Homo sapiens: one gene and its partners. The gene in region 2 interacts genetically with the main gene of each other region. Each region holds a gene or a part of one and is shown on either strand. Other genes may lie near its edges.

Region 1 (3,658 bases), on a different chromosome or scaffold from region 2:
ATTTTATTTAGAATACGAATACAACCAAGTAGGGAAAAACGTATCAGTAACTGCTATTCAACTTAAATTCAGCGAATTAATAGCTGAATAGAAATAGCTAATGACAATGCAAAAGAGAAAACAAGCCATATTGCTAAGAAAAGGATAGTAAGCTGCTTAGAAAGAACCAGCCTGTGTTGGAAATAATTCTCTTCTAGATAATTTACCTTATTTTCTTGGCTTGTACTAATTGAATGGAAGTGGTTAATTTGTTCAGAGTTTATTGCCGTTTGATGCCACCCCAGTCTATAGTTCTGTGTGACTTTCCATATTGAAAGAGTAGGGTTAGTAGCCAGGTTGTCAGTCTTTTACAAATGTCTACATAAATGTCTACATAAATCTGAAAGTGGTTTATATTCAAGGTTAGTTTTTCAGTAGCGTCTCCTCCTTATTCATTCACTTTTACTGTGAAGACTGAAATCCAAAAGCCAGGTTCCCCAAAAAAGTATTTTTAAAAAATTTTAGGGGACCAAAATAAATAGAGGAAGACCAATATAAAAAAATATGTTCAACTATTCCATTTTAAATTTAAAGCAGAAAAAAAAATTGTGCCCCTCAGACCTAAAGGCAGCTTTAAATGTATATAGTTTGGTGAAACATTTGGGAAATATTAATTTGGAGGTTTAGAAGCATACGAAAAACAAATTCAAAGCACTTGAAAGTAAAGACAATATCATGAGGTCGAAAAAACTTCAAAAGGATATTAGGTAAGAGAAAATGTGAATGAAAGCAGTGAATTTCTGCCTCTCCTCGTATTTAGGGTACTTAAAATTACTAAAAAATACTGTCTTTTTACCATACAGCTAGATGGCCTGTATTATTCTTAATGTGGCCAAAGGAGTGAAGACTGATTAGGGTTTTAGAATTTGGAACTGTAGTCACATAAAGGCATCTTTTGCATTTCTTAAACCAGTAATCTACATTTTCTCCTGGAAATGGAGAAATATGAAATGTGCTGTGCATAGCTTTTGGAATAGAAAACAAAGTTTTAAAAGAATGGATATGTTTTCTTGCACAACTTGTAAAATTTTAATTAAAAAATTACCTCATTTTTCAATCCATAAGGTGCTTTGCTCAAGTTTGTGGGATGTTTGTACCATCCCATAAAAACCCCCTTCACCCAAACTGTATTTGAAATATGCAAAATTCATAACTAAGGGATAGCATTCCTTGGAGACTTTGTTTTGTTTTACTCTTGTTTACCAGCTGGGCCAACATGGTAGATATATGAGATTCACATATGGTTTCATTAAAGCACATAGGAAAGTGCTCAGTCAATATTTAATTAGTTTAATTAGATAAGGGAAAGGAGAAATCCTAAATTTGATGGATTCTTTTATACTGTGAATATATTTCCATCAGTGTTGGTAAGATATCAAATGACTATCAGTTGATCCCAGTCATCAGTGACTTATTTGCATATTTAAGCCCTATTCACAAGAGACCATAATCATTTTAATCTTATATTTTCCCTCAGGAAATTTAGGGACTCTGAAGCCCCTATTTTATTCTCTTGGAGTAAACTGTTGAGTGTAGTTACAAAAACTTTTATTTATGACTTAAAAAAAGTTTAGCTGCTATTTCAGTGAAAGTGTAAAATAAAACGGTCATGATTTTTTTCAATTACAGAATAGTTACAAATTTTACCATGTTCATCTATTCCACAGAGCATGTTAAAAACAACAACAACAAAAACCTAACAGCAATTACAACCTTGGTGTTGCGTTTATTCTAATCAGAGTGAATGATTATAATCACACTTTGCTATTTTAACATAAATTGGTGCTTTAGAGCATTAAAGAGGAAGCAGCAGGCCCTGTACTCAGTATTTATTATTTCTTGCCTCAGAATGCAAAACAACTTTAAAGTGTCTATATTCATATATATGTGCATTTCTTAAGATTTAAATACAAACTGTTGTTACTCCTTAAGCTTCAGGCTTTCTGCGAAAGCTCTAAGAATATCTTCATTACTATGCTTGGTCAACTGGAAGATGGTATTAATAAGGTCAGAATTAGGAATTGGATTGCTCTGTGGGTCCTCCGGTATTGTGCAGAGGAAAGAAAAATGTCTTTCACACCACAAACTGTGTGTCTGAACCCCAGCCAAACAAATGTGTTCCATTGGTCCAATATATAAGCATTAACAACAACAACAAAAAATTTAAAACAAGTAAATTAATGCATTCACATGATCACTTCTTGAAAATGGTTCAAAGCATGTTTTCCTGATGGTGGGATTGTTTAAATGACATGTTTTAAAGTTTTTAATACTTTATTAGTTATGAAGTGCTTCTTTTATATGTTAAGTTTAGGTTGCCAGTACTCATAATTTTTATTTCTGCAATTATGTTATAATGAGTTGTTTGCATGCCTACTTAACCCAAGTAAAACGATGCTGTTTGCTCTGGAATGTTCATCTTTTAGACAGGTTTTGGCTCATTTCCAATCATGGTGCAATATAGTGTAACATTCATTTGTTTTCATTCAACAGTTTTATTTTTGTCATAATAAATAATTACTTTTCCAATACGAAGTGAATCCAGTGTTTTCTTTTAAAGGTAAATCTGCTTTAAGTTATTTGCTTGCAAATAATAGAAACCCACCTATGCCAACAAAGAGAGGATAATTGGGGTGAGGTGGTGGAGGCTCACAGAACCCACGGAACAACTGGATTTGTAGAACAGACTGAGACTAGAGACTGGACCATTTAGGAGCAAGCAGGAAGTTACCTTTTTTCCTGCTCATCTGTTTCTGTCTTTCACCTGACTGGATTTCTCTGTTTCCTGATCCACATAACAGATAATGTCCCAAGTCCAGTAGCCTCCTAAATTTGTACAAGGGAGAAGTCAGATTATTGTTAGACTTTCAATTACAATTCCATATTCCCCAGGGAAATTGTTCATTAGCCTGCATTGGGTCATTTCCTCTCTCTGATCTAAACAACTGGCCAAGTGGAAGGTGCATTTACCAGAGAAGGGGAATCCCTGGCCTGGGAAGGTGATCCGGATTGGTGTGTACTCCATTGTGGGGTATAATTGGGATCATCTACCAAAGTTGTGTCCTTGTAAAAAATAAAATAAAATTGAGATCTAATAATGAGTGGGATAACATTTTCACTATGTTCATTCTTCACATTCCTCTAAAGTGGTTTTAACTCCACCGTTTTTGCTCACAGACCTCTTTGGGAATGTGATAAAAGTTGCCTACGTAGAAAAATGACTCATAATTACAGAGTTAGGAATTTTGAGTAGAAGGTTAGGAATTTCAGGTACCTAGGCTTAAGAGTTCTGCTACACACGGAACACTCAGATTTCTTCTGAAAGACACCAGAAACTAGTAAGATTTCATTCTGCCTGTTATTTTTTAATCAGTAAACTTAAGATTGGTATCTTTTTTAAAGCATGTTTTATGTAGGTATTTTTGTAGGTATAATGAATGCATTAAACTGTTCGTGGTTAAAGTGTACAATTTGAAAAGCTTTGATGTGTATACATTTGCAAAATCTTCACCACAATCTGGGTAATGAAAATACCTGTCACTCCAAAAGTTTCCTAGTGTCGCTTTGTAATCCTCCCTTCTGCTCCACTCCCCATCCGCAGATAATCACTGGTTTTGAC
Region 2 (4,303 bases):
CAGTTTTTTTTTTTTAATTTTTTCAGAGACAAAGTCTCACTATGTTGCTCACGCTGGTCTTGAACTCCAGGACTCAAGTGATCCTCCCACTTTGGCCTTCCCAATTGCTAGGACTACAGGACTGAGACACTGCGTTAAGCCTGGGTAGGATTTTTCAAACTGTGTCATGACTCAATGAATTGTAAAAATCACTCAGTAGGAAATAATCAGAATTTTTTTTTAAAAAAAGAAACAATAGGCCGGGTGCGGTGGCTCACACCTGTAATTACGGCACTTTGGGAGGCAAGGCGGGTGGATCACCTCAGGTTAGGAGTTCAAGACCAGCCTGGCCAACATGGTGAAACCCCGTCTCTACAAAAATACAAAAATTAGCTGGGTATGATGGTGGGTGCCTGTAATCCCAGCTACTCAGGAGACTGAGGCGGGAGAATTGCTTGAACCTGGGAGGCGGAGGTTGCAGTGAGCAGAGATCGCGCCACTGCACTCCAGCCTGGGCGACAGAGTGAGACTCCATCTTGGGAAGGGAAAAAAAAAAGAAACAATATAAAATATCAGAGTCTATCACCTATATACATAAGTTCCATCTACTGTTTCATGGAACTTACGTATAAAGGTATAATTTACGAATATTTTGTTATATGTGTAGGTGTATACACAATTTATTTACTAGGTCATGATGTAAAATACATTTCTTACTATAGGTCAAATCAAAAAACTCAAAAGCCATAGTACTTGACGATATACTTAGTGCAAAGTTTTAAAAATACCTCAGTTTTCCAGGCATTACATCATATTGTTGTCTTAGTTCACTCCCTCTGAATCCCACTTAAGTTGCTTAGGTTACTTAAGTATCTTTCTTTTAATTTATGGCCCCTTTTTGTTTAGGGTTTGCATTACAACCCTTACACTATTAAAAAACTTTCATTTTTTAAATCTCTGCTTCCTATTTCTTATATAACCAATTTATTAATAAAATGCCATAGTAAGAAAAATTTGTGTCATCTGTTGCTCTGACTAGGTCACTGCCCTTCACTGGCTCCCTACTGCTTAATGCGTCTAATTCAAAAATTGCTTATTCCCTGTTTTGATGTCTATCCACAGTTCAATTCATCTAAAAATAATCATCTCATTTATTTCTCTCTGTTCTTTCTTGTTCGTTATACTCCTGATTTTAAAGGTCACCCACCTACGATCATCAGAAACATCTCGTTTACATACTATGCTTTGTTTATTTCTTCTCACATTTGAACTATCAGCTCCTAGTGGTCGGTGACCAAATTTAAGCCACCAGTAAGCTGTCACTCATCATGTTTCAGCCACAAGGAAAAAATTGGTAAAATAAAAGGATAAAAATTCTCTTTATTTTCCAAGTATTCTCCTCTTATTATTTCATACCTTGAATGACAGAATAACTATTTCCATCATAGAAAGACTAAAACTTCCCTCCAATAGCTTTATAACCTTAAAAAGGTTTAGTGAGATGATTTAAATGTGGAAAAGAATACCCAAGAAAGGCCTTCAGAGAATATGATAATAGTTTCTTCTCTACACAAAGAAGTAAACAATGTTTAGCTTTTTATAATGTAAATATCACTTAGGTAATATTTTCTCTTAATAGCAAATCTCAATTTCTATTAAAACAACACTCTAAAATCTATACAGTATAACGATGTTTTACATTATAGCTTTTTTGAGGTGTAACAGACATAAAAGAAGTTGTACTTAAATGCAAAATTTGTTGAGTTTTAAGATATGTAAGCCCGTGAAGCCATCAGTCTCCCAAAAGTTTCCTCATACTCCATTGTAATCCATCCCTTCTTGCCCCTGCACCCTAGGCAGCTGATGATCTGCTTTCTGCCACTACAGATTAGTACACATTTACTAGGATTTTTATATAAATGTAATCACATGGTATTTTTGGTCTGAGTTTTTTCACTCTGTAATTATTTTGAGAATCATCCATTTTGCTGCATGTATCAATAGTTCATTCCTCTTTATAGCTGAGTTGTAGTCTGTTGTAATGCTGTATCACTATTTTTCGATTCATCTGTTAATTGATATTTGGGTTGTTTCCAGTTTGGGGCTATTAGAAATAAAGCTGGTATGAATATTTGTACATAATTCTGTGGACACATGAAGACATATTTATGTTGGGTAAACATCTGGGAGTAAAGTGGCTAGGAAATATAGATGTGTGCTTTATTTCTTTTTTTTGAGACAGGGTCTTGCTCTGTGGCCTAGGCTGGAATACAGTGGCATGATCATGGCTCACTGCAGCCTTGACCTCTCAGGCTTAAGTGATCCTACCACCTCAGCCTCTGGAGTAGCTGGGACTACAAGTATGTACCACCATGTTCAGCTACTTTTTTAAAAAATTTCTTATTTTTGTATAGAAGAAGTCTCCCTACATTGCCCAGGCTGGTCTCAAACTCCTAGGCTGAAGCAATCCTCCCGCCTCGGCCTTTTAATTTCTAAAGAAACTACCAAATTGTTTTCCAAAGTGATTGTATCATTTTACGTTCCCATCAGTAGTATATCTTCTGTAGTAATTGCTGGTTCAAATCTTTAGATCATTTTTAAAAAGTGGATGTCTTCTTATTAATGAATTATAAGCATTCTTCATATATTCTAGATATAAATCCTTTGTCAGATACATTTTTCACAAATATTTTCTGCTAGTCTGTAGCTTGTCTTTTCATTTTTGTAACCGTTTTTCTTCAAATTTATTTATTTAAATTGATAGGTAAAATTGCATATATTTATCATGTACAACATATTGTTTTAAAGTATATATACACTGTGGAATGGTTAATCTAGCTAATTTGCATTATCTCACAGTTATCGTTTTTTGTGGTGAGAACACTTAACATCCACTCTTTCAGCATTTTTCCAGAATGCACTATATCATCATTAACCATGTCACGATGTTGTATAATAGTGTAACCGTCTTTTGAAGAACAAAAGTTTTAAATTCAGTTAAAGAACAATTTATTGATTTTTTTTCTGAACTATAAGTTCATGCTTTTCTCTGTCCCATTTAAGAAATGTTTGCCAAAACAGGGTCACTACAATTTGTTTTCTTTTAGAAATTTTAAGTAGTTTTAGCTCTCACACTTAGGTCTATGATCCACTTCCAGTTAATTTTTGTAAATGGTATAATGTAACAGTTGAGGTTCATATTTTTACATATGACTATTAACTGTTTCAGCACCATTTGATGAAAAAGATTACCCCTTCTTCAACTAAATTAGCATCTCTGTCAAAAAATTAATATATCATATATATATGAATCTACTTCTGGAACTTCTTATTCGGCTCTACTGATCTATGTCTGCTTATGCCAAACAATAGTAAATTGACTATAGTATAATAAATCTTAAAATTTGTAGAATAGTAAATTCTCTCCAATATTGTGCCTCTTTGTCAAAGTTGATTTGGCTATTCCGTGGCCTTTGCACATAAACTTTAAAGTCAGCTTGTCAATATCTACCCTCCCAAAAAAGTCTGCCAATGTTTGATAGTTTGATTAGGGTTACAATAAATCTTTTTTTTTTTTTTTTTTTCTTGGAGACAGAGTCTTGCTCTTTTGCCCAGGCTGGAGTGCAGGTGGCACAATCATAGCTCACTGCAACCTTGAGCTCCTGGATTCAAGTGATCCTCTCACCTCTGCTTCCTGAGTAAGTAGAGCTAAAGGCGTGTGCCAGCATGCCTAGCTAGTTTTTTTTAATTATTATTTTATTTTTTGTAGAGATAGGGTCTTGCTACATTCTCAGGCTGGTCTTGAACTCCTTGCCTCATGTGATGCTCCTGCCTTGGCCTCCCAAAGTGCTGGGATTACAGATGTGAGCCATTGTACCTGGCCTTCAATGAATTTTTAGATAAATTTGAGAAGACATCTTATATTTAGTTTTACAATCCATGAACATGGTTATATCTCTTCATTTATTTAGTCTGTTTACAATATTCTCTCTCTTTTTTTTATCTATAGTGATGTCAACCTTTCTTTCCTGATATTGCTAATGTTTGTCTTTTTCCTGATCAGTATCTATTTTATTTTATCTTCTGAAGAATTAGCTTTTGGTTTCATTGGTTTTCTCTCTCTCTTTTTTTTTTAACGGGCAGGAGGCTTTCCTTAACTTTGATTTGCTCTTATTCTAGTTTCTTAAGGCAAAAAAATTAGGCTATTTTCTTTTTTTTTTTGAGACAAGGTCTTGCTTTGTTGCTCAGGCTGGAGTACAGTGGCATGAACACAGTTCACTGCAGCCTCAACTGGGCTCAAGTGATTCTCCCACCTCAGCCTCCT
Region 3 (4,303 bases), on a different chromosome or scaffold from region 2:
TAGCTTATGTTAAACTAGATAAAATGAGCTTAGTGAATTTTATGTCTTAATGGTTTCATAGTAACAAATGAACTTTGGTAAGGTCTATTCAAAAATATATCTCCAGGGCCGGGCACAGTGGCTCACGCCTGTAATCTCAGCACTTTGGGAGGCCGAGGCAGGCAGATCACAAGGTCAAGAGATCGAGACCAGCCTGGCCAACATGGTGAAACCCCGTCTCTACTAAAAATACAAAAAAATCTGCTGGGTGTGGTGGCACGTGCCTGTAGTCCCAGCTACTTGGGAGGCTGAGGCAGGAGAATCACTTGAACTCGGGAGATGGAGGTTGCAGTGAGCTGAGATCGTGCCACTGCACTCCAGCCTGGTGACAGAGCAAGATCTGTGTCAAAAAATATATATATATATATGTTTCTAAACTTCTAGCAATTCAAGTTTACACTTTGCTTACTCCAATTTTTGTTTTCACTCCATGTTTATAAAGTCTTAAGAATTCTCTGTGTGTGTGTGTATATATATATATATGTACACATATAGTATATATATACTTTTTTTTTCTGTCTTTTTTGAGACGGGGTCTCGCTCTGTTGCCCAGGCTAGAGTGCATTGGTGCAATCATAGCTCACTGTAGCCTCAACCTTTTGGACTCCCACCTTAGCCCCCTAAGTAGCTGGAACTACAGGCACCTGCCACCACGTCTGGCTAACTTTTGTATTTTTTGTAGAGACAGGGTTTTGCTGTGTTGCCCAAGCTGGTCTTGAACTCCTGGGCTCCAGTGATCCACCAACCTCAGCCTCCCAAAGTGCTAGGATTACAGGTGTGAGGCATCACATCTGGCCTTAAATTTTTTTTATAATGTATACTTGAATTCCAAATAAGGTATATTCAGAATGAATAGAATTAAAAAAACATTTGGTTTATATTTTACTTCAACATTATTAGTTAATGTTATTAGTTTATGATTATGGAACTAATTTATGTTTGACATTTAAAAAATTGAAATGGAATAGATGGATATAATGTGAAAAGTAAATGTGTGTCTTCTTTCTTCTCCATTCTCCCACACACCCTCTACGTTAACTTCTTGAATAACCTAGACATTTTCTGCACATGAATATATAAGCAACTTTTTTTCTTGCAGAATTGGGATCATATTTCCTGCATTTGAATATATTTGAAGCATTATATAGTATATAGTCAAGTACTTCATTACAACTCTATTATAAACTCACTTAGTAGATAATCATCTTTTGATTACCCAGAAAGTATAGTGAGTCTTTCACCAACAAGCATTTATTGAGAGTTACGATATTCTTAACATGCTGAATCTGAGTATAGCATATGTCGACCTCATTAAAATTTAGGCATTTTGGGGACAAGGGCCAGGACAGAATCAAAGATTGCCCAAATAGGTAATGAAGACTAAATTACGTAGTGTAGGCTAGAAAGAGGGACAGCTGTAGTAGGCATGCCAGAAAAAAGGGAGGGAGTTCCAAGAATGAAGATGAAATTACGATAGGTCGAAAAGATGGAGGGGGAGAACATGTTTGGCAATGAGAAAACACTGCATGGAAACAGAAGCGCACAATCTGTGTTTCTGGGAAAGTCACACCTCACTAGAACAGAGGGTTTATAATGCTGGGTGGTGGGAAATAAGGCCAGGTGGCTTAAAGGAACCTGGAAGAGTTAAGCGGGGATAGGCTAGTAAACAGATGTCTTTGAAGATTTATTTGTTCTTTTGTCTGTGTTCTATTTATTGGATGGTGATAAAGAAACGTTATCTGTTTTATTAGGATTTGATTCATAAGAAAAGAGAAATATCTCTGTAATAGAAATGATTAGATGAAGCTGGGTCACCTGAAGATCAGTATGTTCTATTCAACTTCAGACCCTTGCCCAGGGATTTCCTCTAATCCGTTTGAGAATTTTATTTTAGTGTGTGTGCGTGTGTGTGTGTGTGTTTGTGTGTGTTTTGAGACAAGGCTGCACTCTATCTCCCAGGCTGGAGTGCAGTGGCACCATCTTGAGTTACTGCAGCCTTAGTCTCCCAGGCTCAAGTGATCCTCCCACCTCAGCCTCCTCTGAGTAGCTGGGACTACAGGCACATGCCACCATGCCCAGCTAATTTTTGTATTTTTTTATAGAGATGGAGTGTTGCTCAGGCTGGTCTTGAACTGCTGGGCTCAAGGAGCCCACCCACCTCAGCCTCCCAAAGTGCTGGGATTACAGGTGTGAGCCATCATGCCTGGCCCAGTTTGAGAATTTTAAAGCAAGAGCATGCAATTTATTCTTAAAGTTTTAAGAAACTTTATTCTAGTAGCAAAATAGAAATAATATCATGGAAGCCAATTAGAGGCTCTTTATATTAATCCATGTACAAAAGTACAAGTATCGGAATTGAGTTGCTGGTGTTGGGAATGGAGATTCAGGGATATAAGAGGCATTTAAAAATAGATAAATCTGGATTGCCAAGTGCATATAGCGGCTGAAAAGTGGGGATAGGATGAATGAAGGACAGGAGGTTTTGTACATGCCCTTTCCTCTGCTTGAATTGGTTTGCCCTCCTCTCCGACTACTTCATTCCTTCTTGCCTTTTCTCACTTAAAAGCATCACTTCTTCAGGGAAGCCTCCCCTGACTTACATGACTGAATCACTTAGCCAGGCTCTCATAGCCTTGGTAGTACTAATCACACTGTGGTTTCACCGTTGTCTGTGTGATTATTTGGTAAATTACCTGTTTTTCCTTACTGGAATCTAAGCTCCACAAGGGCAGAAGGGCAGGGGTTTTTTTTGTTTGTTTGTTTTGTTCATTATGAAATTAGAGGGTCAACACAAGGACTCTTTTTTTTTTTTTTTTAAAGAGATACTTTGTTGCCCAGGCTGGAGTGCAGTGATGTGATCATAACTCATCTCAGCCTCAAACTCCTGGGCTCAAGTGAAGTATGGGGACTCTTATTTTACTTTTCCCTTAATAGCCTACTATTTCATTTCTTTTCTTTCCTTTTTTTTTTCAACAAAAAATATAAGCTACTATAATTAAAAACTAATAACGCTAAAATGGAATATAAAGCAATTAGTTTTAAAATTTAGATTATATTCTGAATATATCTTATTTGAAATTTAAGATACAGGCGGGGCGCAGTGGCTCACGCCTGTAATCCCAGCACTTTGGGAGGCCAAGGTGGGCGGATCACTGGAGGTCAGGAGTTCAAGACCAGCCTGGCCAACATGGTGAAACCCCATCTCTACTAAAAACCCAAAAATTAGCTGAGCGTGGTGGCGGGTGCCTGTAGTCTCAGCTACTTGGGAGGCTGAGGCATGAGAATTGCTTGAACCTGAGAGGCGGAGGTTGTAGTGAGCTGAAATTGCATTTCTAGTGGGCGATGGAGTGAGACTCCGTCTTAAAAGAAAAGAAATTCACAATATAAACCATAAGAAAAAAAAAAGTAGAGTAGTTTTTATAAGCATGGAATAGAAATGAAAATTGGCGGGAAAGTATAATACTTGAACTGTGTAAGAATTTCTATGAAGGTAATTTATATGCTGGAATAGAAGATGGCTCTTGGAAAGGTCTTGATATTTATTGAACAGATGAGAATAGTGATTCCATAGATAGAAACATGAAAGCTGTCTTCCTTTACTCATCTATGAGGATTGTTCTCTTCTGGGAAGGCAGATGCACATTCACTTTGGGACGTGCTGAGTTTCAGTGGTAGTGGACTTGTCCTCTAGACAGTTGTGGATATAAGCTTGTAATTAAGGAAATAAGACAGAATAGGACAACTGTATGTGAGAGATACTAGCAACAATGGTATGGTGAACGTGGAAACAAATACATTTCCAATGAAGTGAACAGAGAGAGAAATGAAGACCTGAAAGAAAGCAAAGGAATGGGGCTGGGCTTGGTGGCTCACACCTGTAATCCCAACACTTTTGAAGGCTGAGGCAGGAGGATCACTTGAGCCCAGGAAGTTTGAAACCAGCTTGGGCAACGTAGTGAGACCCCATCTCTACAAAAAATAGAAAAATTAGTCTAGTGTGATCGTACATGCCTATGGTCCCAGCTACTTTGGAGGCTGAGGTGGGACTATCCCTTGGGTCCAAAAGGTTGAGGCTACAGTGAGCCGAGATCATGCCACTGCACTCCAGGTAGGAAAAACAGGAAGTAACCAAGCAGGATGAGAAACAGGAAAGATTATAGCATCACAGAAGCCAAGTAAAAAAAGGCTCTTCAAGAAAAGGAGGTGATAAACAGTAGTGTCCAGTGCAACAAAGAACAAACTGTTTCTCTGGGAGAGGGATAGC
Region 4 (4,303 bases), on a different chromosome or scaffold from region 2:
AGTAGCAGCACTTCAAGGACATAGGGGTTGCTCATGTCAGTTGTTTCTGTTTGTATTGGAAGAATCATAATAACAAATATTTAAGTTGGTAAATTACTAGGTAAACAGGTTGGTGGATTTTTTGTTATTTTTGAGAATACTTTTTAGTTTGATTCTTTGAATGAATTTACATAACAGCTTTCCTGTCAAGTCAGTAATTTCACCCATCTTTAAAAAACAAGTACCAAAAGAGTTTCTTAACACCATATACTCCTCTAGCAGCTGCTGCCTAGTTTCTCTCCTCCACAACAGAGCTCCTTAAAAGAATGCAGTTCCATTTTCTTTTTTCCATTCTCTCTTGAATCCACTCCTCCAGTGATGGATGAGATTGCAAATGTTTGACTCTGCCTATCGTATTACTCAGTCTCGGCAACATTTCTTTATTTAGCTTCTGGGATACCATTCTAGCCTGGATGTAGTCCTATCGTTGTGATTACTCCAGTCTTCGATGCTGTTTCTTCTTCTTCACCCTGACCACTGTACTTAGAGTATCCCAAGGCTCAGTCCTTGAACTTAACCTGTTATACTGTTGATTTTTTTGTTGATCTCATCTAGTCTCCTGGCTTTAATATCAATATGCTGGCAACCCACATCCTATCTTTAATCCAGATCTCACTTGTGAATCCAGATTCATATGCAACTGCTTAATTAATATTGCTGCTTGGATATCTAAAATATCTTTTCCCTGCCCCTTCCCCATCTCCCACCTAACCTGTTCTTCTTTAGCCTTTTCCATCTCAGAATGGTACCTCTATTCTTCTTAGTTGATCAGGCCAAAAACCTTGCAGTCATACCTGATTCCTTTTTCACACATCCCTCAGCTAGTCTTCCACCTCAGAACTATCTTTCATTTTATTGTTTTTATTTTGTTTATCACACTTAGTAACTTTCTGACATACTGTAATTGATGGTCTCCTACCTATTAGAATATAAGTTTCATGAAGGCTAGATGTTTTAATCTCTTGATTGACTGCTTTATTCCAGTGCCTAGGACAGTACTTGACACACAGGCAATCAATAAATGGGTTGTATTAATGAAGGGAAACTTTAGCTTATATTTTAATATGAATATCTTTTGAAGAAAGCAGTAGCAATGTATATTCCAGGTTTTGAATTTTGTTTTTTTGTGTGCTGTATAACAAACTAGGTACTTCACCTGCTTTATCACTTAGTATGAATTATACCCATTAAATGACTTTTCTACCATGGTGTTTTTGTGATTTATAAAATCAACGTAATTTTAGTGAATAAGGACATTTGTTAATTTTTTATAATCTTGTTTTTAATAAAGCTTATATTTCTGGGAGGCAATTGCCATAGTGTATTGACATGGAAAAAATTTTATGTGCTCTTAACTTGATAGTGTATTTTGGCAGTATCTTTTAACTTTATTTGAATAGATATTGGTAAATAAGCAAACGTCTTGCATTTAGCAGTATTTGGTTGTATTTTCCTGTAATGTGCTAAGGTGAATTTTAAGCTTTTGAGTTGGAAAATTTTATTATTTTGTTGTATACTGTAGAATCTTCTAAGGCCTAGCTGGCTACATTTGACTGTCAAACTAAGCTAATTGGAATAAAAGCCAGTAAAAAGTTACTACTCCGCTCTATTATTTCAAGGCTATGTATAGTCTTATCTAAGAATAAAGAAATTATTGTGAGATAATTTTAGACTATCATGATAACTGCTAATATTTCTGCCACCTTTCTGACTTCATATTACCCAACTAATTAAACCTGATGGTGTTAGAAAGAAAGATTTTCTGGAGATTTCACACACATGTTATCCATCAAGTATAGATAAGTGAGATACAATTCTTAGTGCTTTTGCTTTGAATGTTTAAGGTTTAGCATTAGGGGAAAAAATGGTCCTCTGTTAAGTGTGCAGCATTTTCTTGGTATAATTAAGCAAAAATGGTTTTGTTAAAGTACATTAAGACAAAATTGTGAAAGGTTTAGAATATACATATTTGTTCCTCACAGCTTATCAACAAGTTGAGTGAAAAGCCTTGTAGTCACAAAGCTGATGTCAACCTTCTTTTTATTCCCAGCAAATTAGTTCTACAGTGTTTTGGGATTGGTAACCATTCTTTTTATCACCTACTCTATTACCACAAATCCATTTCATGGTTTGTCTTATAAAGTCCCTGATTGTTTGCTTGATTTTTCCTATGCTGTTAAGTAAGTTCTTTGAATTTTGTTTCAAAGGCTGGGAAATTTATGACTATAAATATTTATATTCTAAAGAAGTTGAATGTGTTAATTGATGATTTTAAAGGGTTAAAATAAGCAGCAGTTCATTACAAAGTAAATGAGAAAATGTTTAACTAATTAAAAATACCATTATGTTTGTTTTTTAAGTTTAATTTATGTGCAGATTTACAGAAATAACAAGCTCTTTGTTCAAGTTCTAGTTCTGTTGAAACCTACCTGTTGCTGTATATGTTACCGGAAAGTTAGATTAACTGATTTGGTTAAGAATATCAATTGATTTTCTGTTTTAAATGATATACTTCTCTTGTCATTAATAGCCTGTTTACATTAAAACTTACCCTTAGGGAGTGATGATGAATACAGTGATGATGATGACATGAGTTGGAAAGTGAGACGTGCAGCTGCGAAGTGCTTGGATGCTGTAGTTAGCACAAGGCATGAAATGCTTCCAGAATTCTACAAGACCGTCTCTCCTGCACTAATATCCAGATTTAAAGAGCGTGAAGAGAATGTAAAGGCAGATGTTTTTCACGCATACCTTTCTCTTTTGAAGCAAACTCGTCCTGTACAAAGTTGGCTATGTGACCCTGATGCAATGGAGCAGGGAGAAACACCTTTAACAATGCTTCAGAGTCAGGTGGGTTTTAAAGTAAAGTTTAGAAAATCATGATAGTAAATGCAATGCTTTTAAAATTGTCTTTATATGGAAAGGTGAGTTCCAGAATATCTATAGAGAAGCAGAAAGTTCTAGGATATGTTTATATAGTTAATGCATGTTCATATTATGTTAGTTGTAAACTATTCTAATTGAATTATTCTTGGCTTTACATGATAAACAATATTTAAATAATTTTAAGATTCAGTAAAGTAGTCTTTATCTTTGATGTTAATAGAGAAGTCTTAGAGCTGTGGAGTCATACTACTTGCGATCACATAACTGACTTCATTTCTAATTTAGGTGTGTGATCTTGGGCAAGTTATTTAGTCATTTTATTAAACCTCACTTTTCTTATTTGTAATAAGAACGTACTTAGAAATATCTACCTGTGGTTGTGAGAGCTGGGTGATCTGTGTAGAGCATTCAGTGTAGTGCCTACTACATATATGCTTGATATATGCCAGTACTTACTAATAAAATACACATTTTTTCACTTGAGGGCATTTGTTTTCTAAGATCCTAAACATTAGAGCTATTATATGCTCCCATTTATTGAATATTTATTACATACCAGGCATTCTCCTATCTTATATGTAATCTCTACAGCAGCCCTATGGGATGCACAAATAGTAGGTCAATTTTTATAGATTACAAAACAGATATTGCCAGGGATTAAACCAGTGGAGAGGACGGGACACACATACTGTATCTATCTTGTTTTTAAGTAGTACAAATAAATACATTTTTGTGGTGAACTTACTCATAAAGGTGAATGTTGAAGATTAATTGTAGAAGGAAATGAGATAAAGTGTATGGAGGACATATGCAAGTGAGTGAGTATATAGAAGTCAGGTATTGCTCAGTAGAGTTGCCAGGAATTCTGACAATGCTATGGAAAGTCAGACATTTTTTTTGTTTTGTCTAGTTCTTAGATCATTGTGTAATTAGGGTATGTGTCCATGTAGTTTGGTTGTTGGGATTTTTCTTGGCTTTTTGTTTTTACTCTGTACTTGCTTTGCTGTTGAGGTATTCTAGAAGCTCCGTTGATAGCTTTGCATCCGTAAGATTTGTTAGTAGAGACCCTGTTTGTTTTACTGACTAGCAAAACATTAGGAAGTTTAGAGCAGATGTCTTTTAATCATACCCCTGCTGCTTGTAGCTACATTTGAAGTGAGGTTGATTCCTTCTAACAGCAAATGGAAAGTAAGAAAAGGACCTGTTCGATGGTTGCTTTTCCATAATTTGTCTTGTTTCCTTTGATTTTTATCTGTGCTGTTGTCATTCAAAATACCATTTATAAATTAACCTCCTAAATTTTTTATTGAAAATATGATTTGATTAATTTCTTTCTTTCTCTTTTTTTTTTTTTTTTGAGATGGAGTCTTGCTCTGTT
Region 5 (4,303 bases), on a different chromosome or scaffold from region 2:
CCCTTATATGCATTTACAACACCATCTTTATCTCCCTATTGTGTGTAATGGTTTGAACTTTTATATGGTTTATGTGATTACCAGCAGTAAGCTCCATGAAAACAGATATGATATCTGTTTTTTCTCACCCTATATTCCCAATTCCTGTCACACAGTGGACACTCAATAAACAGTTGCTGAATTAATGAACACATGCTGTGTTATAATAGTTTCCAATTGTTTCATGTTTGTAGCTCTTAGTCATGAAATTTTGGTTCAAGAGATATGTTAGAGATCATCTAGTTCATTATTTCCTAATGTTTTTTATTAGAGAAACTCTTTCACTGTTATGTACTGTCTCTCGAACTCTTTTAAGAATCTTTCCTTTTGGCCGGGCGCGGTGGCTCACGCCTGTAATCCTAGCACTTTGGGAGGCCAAGGCAGGCGGATCACGAGGTCAGGAGATCGAGACCATCCTGGCCAACATGGTGAAACCCCGTCTCTACTAAAAATACAAAAAAAAAAAACAACAAAAAAATTAGCCAGGCATGGTGGCAGGCGCCTGTAGTCCCAGCTACTAGGGAGGCTGAGGCAGGAGAATCGCTTGAACCAGGGAGTCAGAGGTTGCAGTAAGCTGAGATCACGCCACTGTAGTCCAGCCTGGCGACAGAGCAAGACTCCGTCTCAAAAAATAATAATAAAATAAAAATTAAAAATAATTTTTAAAAAAGAATCTTTCCTTTTTCTTTTTCCTCTTTTATATATTCTCTTTTGTCTTTTTCCACATTGTCTGAACTTTTAAGAATCTTTTAATTCACTTTGTTATTTTTGCCTAGCATATTACGAGGAAGTAATTGAGGTTTAAAAGATTTATTATTTAAATTTTTTGCCTTAAGATTATATTATAAAGTTAATTTGAAATCTAAATTGCATTTTTAAATCTAAATTACAATTTTTAAAACCCTTTCCCCATTAATAAGCAGTATATATTGCTTACTTTTTTTTAATTCTGTAAAGAAATGTGATTTTTAAAACAAATTAATATGTTTAGGGAACAATTTATATTGAAATTTAACCAGGTGTTATAGTATCAAAAACCAATAAAACCTGCATTATAATCTTATGTAATTGGAATCTTATATTTTGACCATATAAAAATCAACTTTTTTGTTTTAAACTTTCATACTTTATTTTAAAACAATGTAATTGTAGAAAAGATCTTAGCCTGCTACTTGCAAATACTTCACAAACATTGTAGTTGTGCAGAGTCTTACATCCCAATAAGTTAAAAGCCAAAGTGAATATAATTAACTTTATTTTCTCTTGCATGTTAATTTTTAAAGGAATAGACACATTTAATGCTCTATATAGGAATTTTGATCAGGCCAGGCGCAGTGGCTCATGCCTGTAATCCTAACACTTTGGGAGGCCAAGCCAGGTGGATCAGTTGAGGTCAGGAGTTCGAGACCAGCCTGGCCAACATGGTGAAACCCCGTCTCTGCTACAATTACAAAAAATTAGCTGGGTATGGTGGCACAAACCTGTAATCTCAGCTACTTGGGAGGCTGAGACAGGAGAATTGCTTGAACCCAGGAGACGGAGGTTACAGTGAGCCAAGATTGTGCCATTGCACTCCAGCCTGGGCAACAGAGTGAGACTTAATCTCAAAAAAAAAAAAAAAGAATTTTGAGCAAATGAATACAATTTATAGACAAGCAGCTTGATGTGAGTTTGCAGAATTATAATCAATTTTATGTTGTGTTTCAACATCTGTGTCCTTTATATTCTTTATCTTAATTGGCCAAAATGCAGCTGGTTAATATTTAATATTATACACATATTATTAAATAATATATGATTCCCGATCATTGTATTTAATTTATCTCTTTTGTCTCCAGCCCTTACCCACCAACATAAGCACACTTAACCTAGACTTCAATATGCAGTAGACGCAGTAAATAAACAAATCAATGGGTGAATGCTTATTACTTTTTTCCTTAAGCAACTCTCCTCATATTTTGTTTGCTTGTTCTTCATTTTCTAGGAGAATGTGGATTATATTATTCAGGAGCTCCGAAGACCCAAATACACTATATATTTCATTTGTAAGTATGTTAGTTCACTTTTTCAAACATGTAACAACATCCCAGTTAGTGTGTTTCATTGAGCCCTTCATATCATCAATAACTTCATTGAATCTGTCACTATAAAAGTCTAGTTTATTTAATGTCCTTCCAAAGTATTAAAAATCTTTTGACCTGCCGGGCGCGGTGGCTCACACCTGTAATCCCAGCACTTTGGGAGGCCAAGGCGGGCGGATCATCTGAGGAGTTTGAGACCAGCCTGACCAACATGGTGAAACCCCATCTCTACTAAAAATACAAGATTAGCTGGGCATGGTGGCACATGCCTGTAATCCCAGCTACTTGGGAGGCTGAGGCAGGAGAATCGCTTGAACCGGAGAGGCGGAGATTGCAGTGAGCCGAGATTGCGCCATTGCACTCCAGCCTGGGCAACAAAGCGAAACTCCATCTCAAAAAAAAAAAAAATACTTTTGACCAATATTCTGTTTCAGAGGGCTAAATGTGATTTCCATTCATCTTTGATTGCTTAAATTAAAAATTTTACATTTTACTTTGCCTTTCAAGATGCTTTGTAAGTCAAAAGTTTTAAGTAGACAAATTTCACATCTCACCCCTGCCAAAAAAAAAAAGTATATACTTATCCCTGTTTTACACTTAAAAATTGAGGCATGGAAGCTGATTTATTTTTTGAAGTGGGAAGGTAATACTTGAGTTTGCTGGAAAAGCAGAAATTTACTTTACATACCAGATAAAAGCCTTTCACTTCTCTTTGTTACTATATTTAATGCACTGAAAGTATAAATCATCAGGTAGTGATCTCTTATGTGCACAACTTTCTTGGAGTGGGGGTTAGGTAGGGGAGATCTGGAAATAAACTAGGTTTGTGTTTACTATACAATTTACATGGATTTTTTTGATCCAATACATTCGGCTGTAGAAGTTACATCTATTCTCCTCTAGATGTCATTATTTATCTTTATGTTAATAGTGTTAGTGTAGTCTATTTGGTAACATTTCCAAAACCAAGGACTAGATTTAACAGTAAGTAGGGCATTTGAGAAGTTTTAAAGCTTACTTAAAGGTATTAGAGTTTTAGGGTTTAGACTACAGTCTAAGACGTACATACTTTCTTCAGCGTATACTACTTAAATAGAATAATGATACAAAAAATTAACATTTGCGAAAAGACTATATATATATAAGAGCTCTCTCATATTTTATTTCATTCAGTTCTGTGTAGAATTGAAAAGTTACATAAAGCTTGTCCAGTGGGTTTTCAGTGCACGACGCCCCAAGAGGTAAAAATAGGCAATTTTATTAATCTGTGGCAACTTAATTTTTGTTTGTTTTTGTCTGTTTGTTTTTGGCTAATAGTCACAGGTTTTCTTTTTAAAATTAAACTTTCTATTTTGAAGTAATTGTAGATTCATGTGCAGTTAAAAAAAAAACAACGAATAATAATACAGAGATCCCAGATACCCTTTACCCAGCTTCCCCCTGTGTAGTATCTTACATGATGATAGTACAATATCACAACCAAGATGTTAACACTGATACAGTCAGGATACACAACATTTTCATCTCTATAAGGATCCCTTTTATTAGCTTATATGGACTTCTGTCCCACCCCAACCCCCTCATTAACCCTGGTAACCACTAATATTTTCTCCATTTTATATTTTGTCATTCGAAGAATGTTCTATAAATGAAATCATACAGCATATAATCTTTTGGGACTGGCTTTTTTCACTCAGCATAATTCTCTGGAGAGTCATCCAGGCTGTTCTGTGTGTGTGTGTGTGTTGTTTTTGTTTTTTTTTTTTGTCCGAGAAGCAGTCTTGCTTTGTCACCCAGGCTGGAGTGCAGTGTCGCCATCTCAACTCACTGCAACCTCCACCTCCCGGGTTCAAGCGATTCTCCCACCTCAGCCTCCCGAGTAGCTAGGATTACAGGTACACACCACCACGCCCAGCTAATTTTTGTATTTTTTTTTAGTAGAGACAGGGTTTCACCGTGTTGGTTGTCCAGACTGGTCTCAAACTCCTGACCTTGGGTGATACGCCCGCTTCAGCCTCCCGAAGTACTGGGATTACAGGCATGAGCCACCACACCTCACCTGTTGTGTGTATTAATAGTTCATTCCTCCTTTGAGCTGGAACTGCAAAAAAAAAAGTTTTCTTAATTTAAAAATAGTTCATTTCTTTTTATTGCTGAGTAGTATTCCATGGTATGAATGTACC
Region 6 (4,303 bases), on a different chromosome or scaffold from region 2:
GGAAATTGATCTACTATTAAAAACTTTGTGACTAATCTGACCCTATTATTGAGATGACACGTTTGTCTTTGAGCCCATTGCACAGTTTGGTCTTAATTTTATAGTTCTCATTGTGACCCACATGCTATGTCTTAGATTTAGGAAGCTATTAAAAATGGTCATTGGTGGCCGGGACGCAGTGGCTCATGCCTGTAATCCCAGCACTTTGGGAGGCCAAGGCAGATGGATCACCTGAGGTCAGGAGTTCAAGACCAGCTTGGCCAACATGGCAAAACCCCTATCTCTACTAAAAATACAAAAATTAGGCCAGGCACAGTAAACTTCTGATGATTCACGTGCAGGTGGTTCACACCTGTAATCCCAGCACTTTGGCAGGCCGAGGCAGGTGGATCATGAGGTCAGGAGTTCAAGACCAGCCTGGCCAATATGGTGAAATCCTGTCTCTACTAAAAATACAAAAATTAGCTGGGCGTGGTGGTGCGCACCTGTAGTTCCAGCTACTCGGGAGGCTGAGGCAGGAGAATCCCTTGAACCTGGGAGGCAGAGGTTGCAGTGAGCCGAGATCATGCCATTGCACTCCAGCCTGGGCGACAGGGCGAGACTCCATCTCTAAATAAATAAATATAAATAAATTAAAAAATTAGCTGGGCATACGGCGAGACTCCGTCTCAAAAAAAAAAAAAAAAAAGAAAAAAAAAAAAAGAAAGCCGGGCATGGTAGTGCCTGCCTGTAGTCCCAGCTGCTTGAGAGGCTGAGGCAGGAGGAGAATCGTTTGAACCTGGGAGGTAGAGGTTTCATTGAGCCAAGCTCACACCACTGCACTCTAGCCTGGGCAACAGCGAGACTGCGTCTCAAAAAAGTCATTGGTGCTTTATTGTGAAAATACAAAAAAACTCAAATAGAGCTACGTCTTGGGAGGAAGCAACTAGAACTTTGTAATGAATGTAGTTTGTAGGTGTTTGGGTGGAGTAAGGAGGTAAAGATCCTCTGGATCATGGATTCTTCATTGGAATGGCCCTCCAGAGATCTCAGACCACATGACTACATGTGGTTTTTTTGGATATTTTCCAGGTTCTGCTTATGTTTGATTGGAGTTTCTTTCCTCCTTTTTGTTTTTGAAGTATTTTAACCATTTGGTAAGAATATGATATGTTCAAATATATTAGTTTGGTTTCCCTTGATTGACTTTAGAAATCTGCTTAGGTCTTAAGAGTTTGGGGGCATGGTTGCATATTTATGCATTTGTAAGTATATAGGAATTCATTGAATTTGTAAAATAGGTAGGCAGAAGAGTAAGATTGTAGTGTGGAGAATGGCATGAGCAAAGTTAAATGATTGGAAAGTTTATGACATGTTCTAGAGACTGAGTAGAGCAGCTTTTCTAAGTTTTAGTACGTAGGTCAAGAAGAGTTAGGGGAAGATTTGGGCTAAGGCTTAGCTAGCTTTGTCACACTCATCCTTTTTCATCATGTTTATCTAATGATCTTACCTGGATTTAGTTATTCACTTTCAGGTGCAGACAGAAGGTTATGGGTCCTCCAAAGCTTCAGACCTTGGCTAATTTCTCTCCTCTTGTTCATAGCCATTTTACCTTTCATCTTTCCTTCTACCCTAACAATAACCTAACCTTTCACCTGCTAGGACTTCCGGACATTCTTAACCTTGTAGGGCAGGACTGGATTTCTTTCCCGGCCCAAATTCCATGGCTAGCCACTTCATTTCTTTCTTATCACTGTCTCCGACACGCTTTTCTCTATTAACATTTTCCACCATGCCAGACATATGGATTCTGTTTTTTTTTTTTTTTTTTTTTTTTTGGAGACAGGATCTCACTCTGTCGCCCAGGCTGGAGTGCAGTGACACAATCTTGGCTCACTGCAACCTCTGACTCCCAGGTTCAACTGATTCTCATGCCTCAGCCTCCCAAGTAGCTGGGACCACAAGTGTGTGCCACCACACCCAGCTAATTTTTGAATTTTTAGTAGAGACGGGGTTTCGCCATGTTGGCCAAGCTGGTTTTGGACTCCTGACCTCAAGTGATCCACCCGCCTCAGCCCCCCAAAGTGCTGGGATTACAGGCGTGAGCCACTGTGCCTGGCCCAGACATGTGGATTCCTACCCTGTATCATCTACTATACCTTCTCTCTCCAGTGTGCCTTCTTTATTTCTAGGCACTGTTAAAGAAAGATTTAAAGCAGTTTAAATCCTAATCCACCACAGGATAGGTTATCTAATTTCAGCTTATTGATACTCTAGTTCATTCCATACAGTGGTTGTAAAAGATGATGCATCTTGAAACTGTTAACCTTTTCCTTTCCTCAGTAGGCAACTAAGTTGTGTTATAAGATGAAATCCTGGAATGAGTAATTTCTGCCATCTGCTTTATCTTAGACTTGTCTGTGTGTTATAGCACATGGTTTTGTTCACAGCAGTTTTACCTTGGTGATCATGTTCAGCTAGTGGCCAGGTATGATAAAGAATTTTACCTCTGCCTCCCAGGTTCAAGCAATTCGTCTACCTTAGCCTCCCAAGTAGCTGGGACTATAGGCTCACGCCACCATGCCAGGCTAATTTTTTTGTATTTTTAGTAGAGATGGGGTTTCACCATCTTGGCCAGGCTGGTCTTGAACTCCTGACTTTGTGATCCACCTGCCTCGGCCTCCCAAAGTGCTGGGATTACAGGTGTGAGCCACCATGCCTGGCCTAAGAGTCTTTTTTTTTTTTTCAGTAGTTTTTGCCTAGCTAGTTTTTCCTAACAGAACTGTTAGAAAAGCACCAGGTTTGGAATTAGGACATAGTAACCAAGTCCTAAGGACATGGCTGAAGTAAGGAGACCACTTAAAAAAATACCTGTACTAAAGCCAGATGAGGTTTTACTTTAAAGCTATCATTTTAGGAGGCTATATAGTTTTTCCACTGGTATGTCCTACTATTATTCAATCTATTCTTTGAAACTCAGAAGTTCTTTGGAAACAAATTTTTAAATAATTCTTCATATTTCACTTAACAAAAAAAAAATGGCACTCATTTTAGATACCTTTTACCTTATGACCAAGATGATACGAGGTGGCTCATCTCCCACTTTAAAGTCAAGTTCATCTTCAGAGTTTAAAAGATTTGCCACCATTAGGTGGCAATATTCAAAATGGTGTACCTCAGGCTCTGAAAGCAATTATAAAAGAACCGTAGCAAACTATTTTGAAAAAATGGTAACATGGTTGGAATAAGTGTTTAACCTCCTTAGCTGATTACGGCCCTTGTAAGAAACTGAGAGAGTACTGTTTTTTACTTCGTTGTCTCTGTGTACATTATTTATACATATACACATTTTTTAGTCATTCTTTATTGTTATATATTATAGATTCTTGCCTATGTTTTTGTTTCCTTTTGGACTTTTCCTGCTAATTTTGTACTGTTTTTAGGGTCAAAGTAGTTGTATTTTCTCTGGTATTTCATTGGTCAGAGTAATTGTATTTTCTTCCCAAGTATTGAGAAGCCCATCTAAATTCTGCCCCGTAGCTAATACATTGGGGGAATGGGGTGGAGGCGGGGGCGGGATATATTCCCGTAACTTAAAAATAAGCTGACATTTTGAGAATGCTGTGATTAAAAATCAGTATTCTCCTGGGAAGCTAAAAACTCTTATCCAAGTCAGAGATCAGAGTATAGCCTGATAATGAATTCTAGTTGTGTTAAAAATGTTTATGAGTGCGTGTATTAATAAAACTGAAGAGGAGTTACATCATCAAAAAAGGAATGCTTAATTTTGGGACATAGAAAAATGGAGTTAGGCAGAATTGCCATGCTATTTAAAAACTTTCTAGGTGCAAAGGTACCTTGTCCCAAGGACTCGATTACCTGGCCCTCATGCAGGCATGGCCTTGCTCTAAAGATGAATTCAGACCAGGTACAGTGGCTTGCACCTGTAATCCTAGCACTTTTTGAGGCTGAGGCGGGAGGATTGCTTGAGCCCAGGAGTTTGAGACCGGCCTGGGAAACACAGGGACATCCCATCTCTACAAAAGAAACAAAATATCCAGGCGTGGTGGTGCACACCTGTGGTCTCAGCTACTCAGGAGGGTGAGGTGGGTGGATCACTTGAGCCTGGGAGGTTGAGGCAACAGTGAGCCGTGATTGTGATACTGCAATCCAGCCTGGGCAGCAAGAGTGAGACCCTGTCTCAAAAAAAAAGAAAGGATTCACATCAGTCATTGCAGCCTGTAACACTCCTTGTGGTTGGGATTCCATGCTCCCCAAGTAATCATCTGATTTTAATTCAGCCATCATGTAACATATCCTCAGG
Region 7 (3,989 bases), on a different chromosome or scaffold from region 2:
TGTGTAAATGCTTTGAACAAAGCCTTGTCACTGTCTGTGCTTGGAAGACATGCAGAAACATGACACCCATGGAGAACCATCTCCCCACCAGTCATCTGAGAAGTTAGCAGGCTTGTTTTAATGCTGGACAGATGCTTGGCGTGGACAGTCTAAGAGTTAACTAGGCTGCTCAGTATGATAGTGATGGGTGCCCCAGCCCTCCTCATGGAGGTGAGCCGCGCGCATTCAGCTTGTTTCTCATCGAGACAGAGGACAGCATTCTGTTAAGTTTCTGCTGCTGCCATGATAACAGAGCTCGCTGTCACATTCTGGCTCCCGCAGGCTGTGCCCCGGACACAAAGCAACTCTGTCTTTACCCTCGTGAGCGCGGCTTGGGCCATAATAGGACTTTTCTTTCATTTGTATCTATTTCTTATTGTAAGCCTTAGATCATTTATTCCCTTCCTTACACTTCTAGAGGTGAAAGAAAACCCAAGTCTGCCTTTGTAAAACCAAGCTGTGGCCTCAGGAGTCAGGGCTGGGGCACTCAGCCTTCCACCCCCCAGGCCTCCTCTGCCACAGGCCTGCTGCATCCGGCTGCATTTCAGTCGGGCAGCCGGTGGGTTTCCTGACATGCGTGATAAGAGTGGGTTTGAGTTTGGTTTGGCTTGTTTTTTACAGTTGAATTCTATATTATTTGGTCAAAATATTACTTTGCAATTTGCAAATGTGGTGGCACCTACCATTTTACTAGCCACAAGTAACTCATAAGTTGACGTAGGACCTGCTCATATTATACCAATATTTTAAGTATTTTATGTTTCATCTTATTAGTTATTCATTTTATTTTATCTAATGCTCTGCCAGAATTCATTCCAAAAGGTAAAAATTACTAAACTATAAGACTCTTAAATAAGGCGTGTATATTAGCAACTTAGTTTCTGACATATAGAACATTAACATTCCACTGTATCTTAAATGTCTTTTGCCTTTTTATTAAAAAATGATTAAATGGTTACTGAAGTTTTCCTCTGCCTGACATATAAATGTCTTCATATTCTAACATGATATTAGGGAACTAAATATATGAGTATAGACTTAATATTTCTTTTGTCAACTAAACTGACTAAATTTTGTCAAAGCAGATTGGAGACATAAAAACAGCTGAAAAGTATTTTCAAGACGTTGAGAAAGTAACACAGAAATTAGATGGACTACAGGGTAAAATCATGGTTTTGATGAACAGGTAAATATTTTAAAACTAAATATATGTTTTCTCAAATTTCCCAGAGGCGTTCAAGCCCCACTTACTGAGTTGGAAAGCTCCCTAGAGAAGGCGCTTCTCCCTGTATCTCCTCTTGCCCTGTGTCTCTCAGAGCGGAGACCCAAGGAGTATACAGGTGTTTTCTTGAATCGCAGTGATGTTCTTTTAGTCACAGAAGCTGATTTTTAAGGAGCTATTCCCCCTTGTTCTTCAGAGAAGCGCTTGTATTGCCCCCGTTTTCAGCGTATGTGTGTGTAAAGGTCACCATTGCTGGCGTAGCGGCCGTTCTGGATCCTGTGCTCTGGTGTTCTGTGTCTGGATCCCGTGCTCTGGTGTTCTGTGTCTGGATCCCGTGCTCTGGTGTTCTGTGGTAGAACGCACAGCGTCGTGCGAGTGCACGTTCGTGAGGAGGAAACACGCCTTGGACAAAGCCTGCAGCCAGGATCAGAAAGCGTAAATAAAGCAGGTGTCCGCTTTTAGCAGGAAGTCATTTAGGTGAAGTTACTCTATCTCAATTAACAAAAACTAGAGTGGCTTGGCCGGGTGCAGTGGCTCATGCCTGTAATCTCAGCACTTTGGGAAGCTGAGGCACGTAGATCACTTGAGGTCAGGAGTTTGAGGCCAGCCTGGCCAACATGGTGAAACCCCATCTCTACTAAAAATACAAAAAATTAGCCAGGCGTGGTGGCAGTCGCCTGTAATCCCAGCTACTTGGGAGGCTGAGGCAGGAGAGTTGCTTGAATCCAGGAGGCGGAGGTTGCGGTGAGCCGAGATCGTGCCACTGCACTACAGCCTGGGCAACGAGAGCAAAACTCCATCTAAAAAATAAAAATAAATAAAAACTAGAGTGGCTTTAATGTGCGAGCCTGAATGCAAAACGCAGCTCACCGCCTCTACCTGGAGATCAGGAACCCCGGGCCACACAGGGCCATACGCTGGGTCTCTGTGGGATCCAAAGCCCCTGTGGGTTGTGTTGGGGGACAGCAGCTCCTGGGCTTTCCCCGCTAACTGCCACCGTTGCTTGTGTTACAGCGCGTTCCTTCACCTCGGGCAGAATAACTTTGCAGAAGCCCACAGGTTCTTCACAGAGATCTTAAGGATGGATCCAAGAAACGCAGTGGTAAGATCCCCAAGCTGCAGGATCCTCCATCCTCTGCCTTTCACAGACGCTAGAAACATACACCCACACACGTCTCAGCAGGGGCCTGCGCTCTCTCTCTCCAGTCCACCAGCTCCAGGCAGTGGCTGTGGCCCTTAGGGGAAGTGACCCAACAGGGCCACCTAGGCTCTGCCCAGCAGCTCTGCACCACCCCCAGGCCCCTAACACGGCCCAGCACGCAGCCTGGAATGGGCGGGCGTCTGTCCTGGTTGTGTGGGCCAACCCTGGGCGTGTGCTCCTCCCTAGGCCAACAACAACGCTGCCGTGTGTCTGCTCTACCTGGGCAAGCTCAAGGACTCCCTGCGGCAGCTGGAGGCCATGGTCCAGCAGGACCCCAGGCACTACCTGCACGAGAGCGTGCTCTTCAACCTGACCACCATGTACGAGCTGGAGTCCTCACGGAGCATGCAGAAGAAACAGGCCCTGCTGGAGGCTGTCGCCGGCAAGGAGGGGGACAGCTTCAACACACAGTGCCTCAAGCTGGCCTAGCTGCCTCCAACACACTACGTCAGAAGGACCCGGGTCTTTGAAACTGTGTCTTGAAGCTAATGTATTAATGTGACATGGAGGAACTCAATAAAACTCCTGCTTCACTGGTGTCTGCTGCGTGTCTTCTTGGTCCCAAGCCACGGCCCAGCCCAGGACTTCCCCGCAGTTGGTCGGCGTTCAGCCACGCAGTCCCTGCAGCTGGGTCACTGTTCATGAATGCAAGGGGCAGGCGTGCTGGGAGGACACAGCTCGTAGACAGGAAATCTGGAGTCAGCCTCGGGGCCTCTGTTCTGGAGGCCAATCCTGCTTTGCTCGTTCCTTCTGGACATCCTCAGAGAAAAGCTGGGAGGTGTGGAGACCCTCTCGCCGTGCACCTGCACGTACAGGGAGATTTACAACAGGGAAGACACCCCCCACAGATCGCCGCTCATGCTCCTCTTGCCCTCCCCACACACCCAAAACTAAGTGCGTTGGTCTTACCCATCCGAGTCTCCTCCAGCCTGATGCCAGCCAAACGACCCCTGCCAGCCTGGCGGTGGAGGAGAGGCCATCACTGTTTCTCCCATAGTTTATACGTCCACGTGGAGAGTGAGCTGAGTGGAACAGGAAGCACGACGCATAATGAAGCACAGGAAGAGCGCGTAAAACGCAGGCAGGCAGGGGCTGGGGGTGGTTTTGAAGCCAGACACGTGTTTTCATGTGTTCTCTCATGCCTGAAAGGCCTTTTGCCCTTACGTTTACACAGTTATTCCTGCTTTTGAAGAACTTAAAGTACCTGAAAATGTCTTCACTTTACGAAAGAACTCTGCCAAGGGTTCTCTAAATATCTAGCTTTGTGGATAGTTTTAAATATAATTCATTTTACAGACTGTGATATAAACATTTGCACAAAGCGAAGCCATATTTCTGTTAATTTTTGTAATAGAGTAGAAACATACAAACACTGCATCTACCAGACAGTCTCAGCCCATTTGCTGACATCTAGATTAATTATGCATTAAAAGAAAAGAAAAAAGAGGTGAGACAGCCAAAAGGACTGTTGGACACCAAGGAGGTTTCAAGATCTTTCTCTTCAAAAAGAGAACTGAAACTATTGTT

The links.
Region 1: changes in RAB2A (region 2) and ARL5B together harm fitness more than expected from each alone (negative genetic interaction), as found in Homo sapiens cells (one large-scale study listed by BioGRID).
Region 3: changes in RAB2A (region 2) and TRAPPC11 together harm fitness less than expected from each alone (positive genetic interaction), as found in Homo sapiens cells (one large-scale study listed by BioGRID).
Region 4: changes in RAB2A (region 2) and CAND1 together harm fitness more than expected from each alone (negative genetic interaction), as found in Homo sapiens cells (one large-scale study listed by BioGRID).
Region 5: changes in RAB2A (region 2) and VPS45 together harm fitness less than expected from each alone (positive genetic interaction), as found in Homo sapiens cells (one large-scale study listed by BioGRID).
Region 6: changes in RAB2A (region 2) and ARL5A together harm fitness more than expected from each alone (negative genetic interaction), as found in Homo sapiens cells (one large-scale study listed by BioGRID).
Region 7: changes in RAB2A (region 2) and TRAPPC12 together harm fitness more than expected from each alone (negative genetic interaction), as found in Homo sapiens cells (one large-scale study listed by BioGRID).

Annotation. Positions count from the first base shown.
Region 1 is NC_000010.11:18,679,070-18,682,727, forward strand, and holds the end of ARL5B (ADP-ribosylation factor-like protein 5B), read left to right. Parts: 3' UTR 1-2,570; downstream 2,571-3,658.
Region 2 is NC_000008.11:60,586,194-60,590,496, reverse strand, and holds part of RAB2A (ras-related protein Rab-2A), read right to left. Parts: intron 1-4,303.
Region 3 is NC_000004.12:183,686,793-183,691,095, forward strand, and holds part of TRAPPC11 (trafficking protein particle complex subunit 11), read left to right. Parts: intron 1-4,303. UniProt on the Homo sapiens protein: Involved in endoplasmic reticulum to Golgi apparatus trafficking at a very early stage.
Region 4 is NC_000012.12:67,299,727-67,304,029, forward strand, and holds part of CAND1 (cullin-associated NEDD8-dissociated protein 1), read left to right. Parts: intron 1-2,596; coding exon 2,597-2,889; intron 2,890-4,303. UniProt on the Homo sapiens protein: Key assembly factor of SCF (SKP1-CUL1-F-box protein) E3 ubiquitin ligase complexes that promotes the exchange of the substrate-recognition F-box subunit in SCF complexes, thereby playing a key role in the cellular repertoire of SCF complexes.
Region 5 is NC_000001.11:150,070,143-150,074,445, forward strand, and holds part of VPS45 (vacuolar protein sorting-associated protein 45), read left to right. Parts: intron 1-2,023; coding exon 2,024-2,084; intron 2,085-4,303. UniProt on the Homo sapiens protein: May play a role in vesicle-mediated protein trafficking from the Golgi stack through the trans-Golgi network.
Region 6 is NC_000002.12:151,818,175-151,822,477, reverse strand, and holds part of ARL5A (ADP-ribosylation factor-like protein 5A), read left to right. Parts: intron 1-4,303. UniProt on the Homo sapiens protein: Lacks ADP-ribosylation enhancing activity.
Region 7 is NC_000002.12:3,476,571-3,480,559, forward strand, and holds the end of TRAPPC12 (trafficking protein particle complex subunit 12), read left to right. Parts: intron 1-1,124; coding exon 1,125-1,225; intron 1,226-2,022; exon of another isoform or gene 2,023-2,275; coding exon 2,276-2,363; exon of another isoform or gene 2,364-2,648; coding exon 2,649-2,891; 3' UTR 2,892-2,995; downstream 2,996-3,989. UniProt on the Homo sapiens protein: Component of the TRAPP complex, which is involved in endoplasmic reticulum to Golgi apparatus trafficking at a very early stage.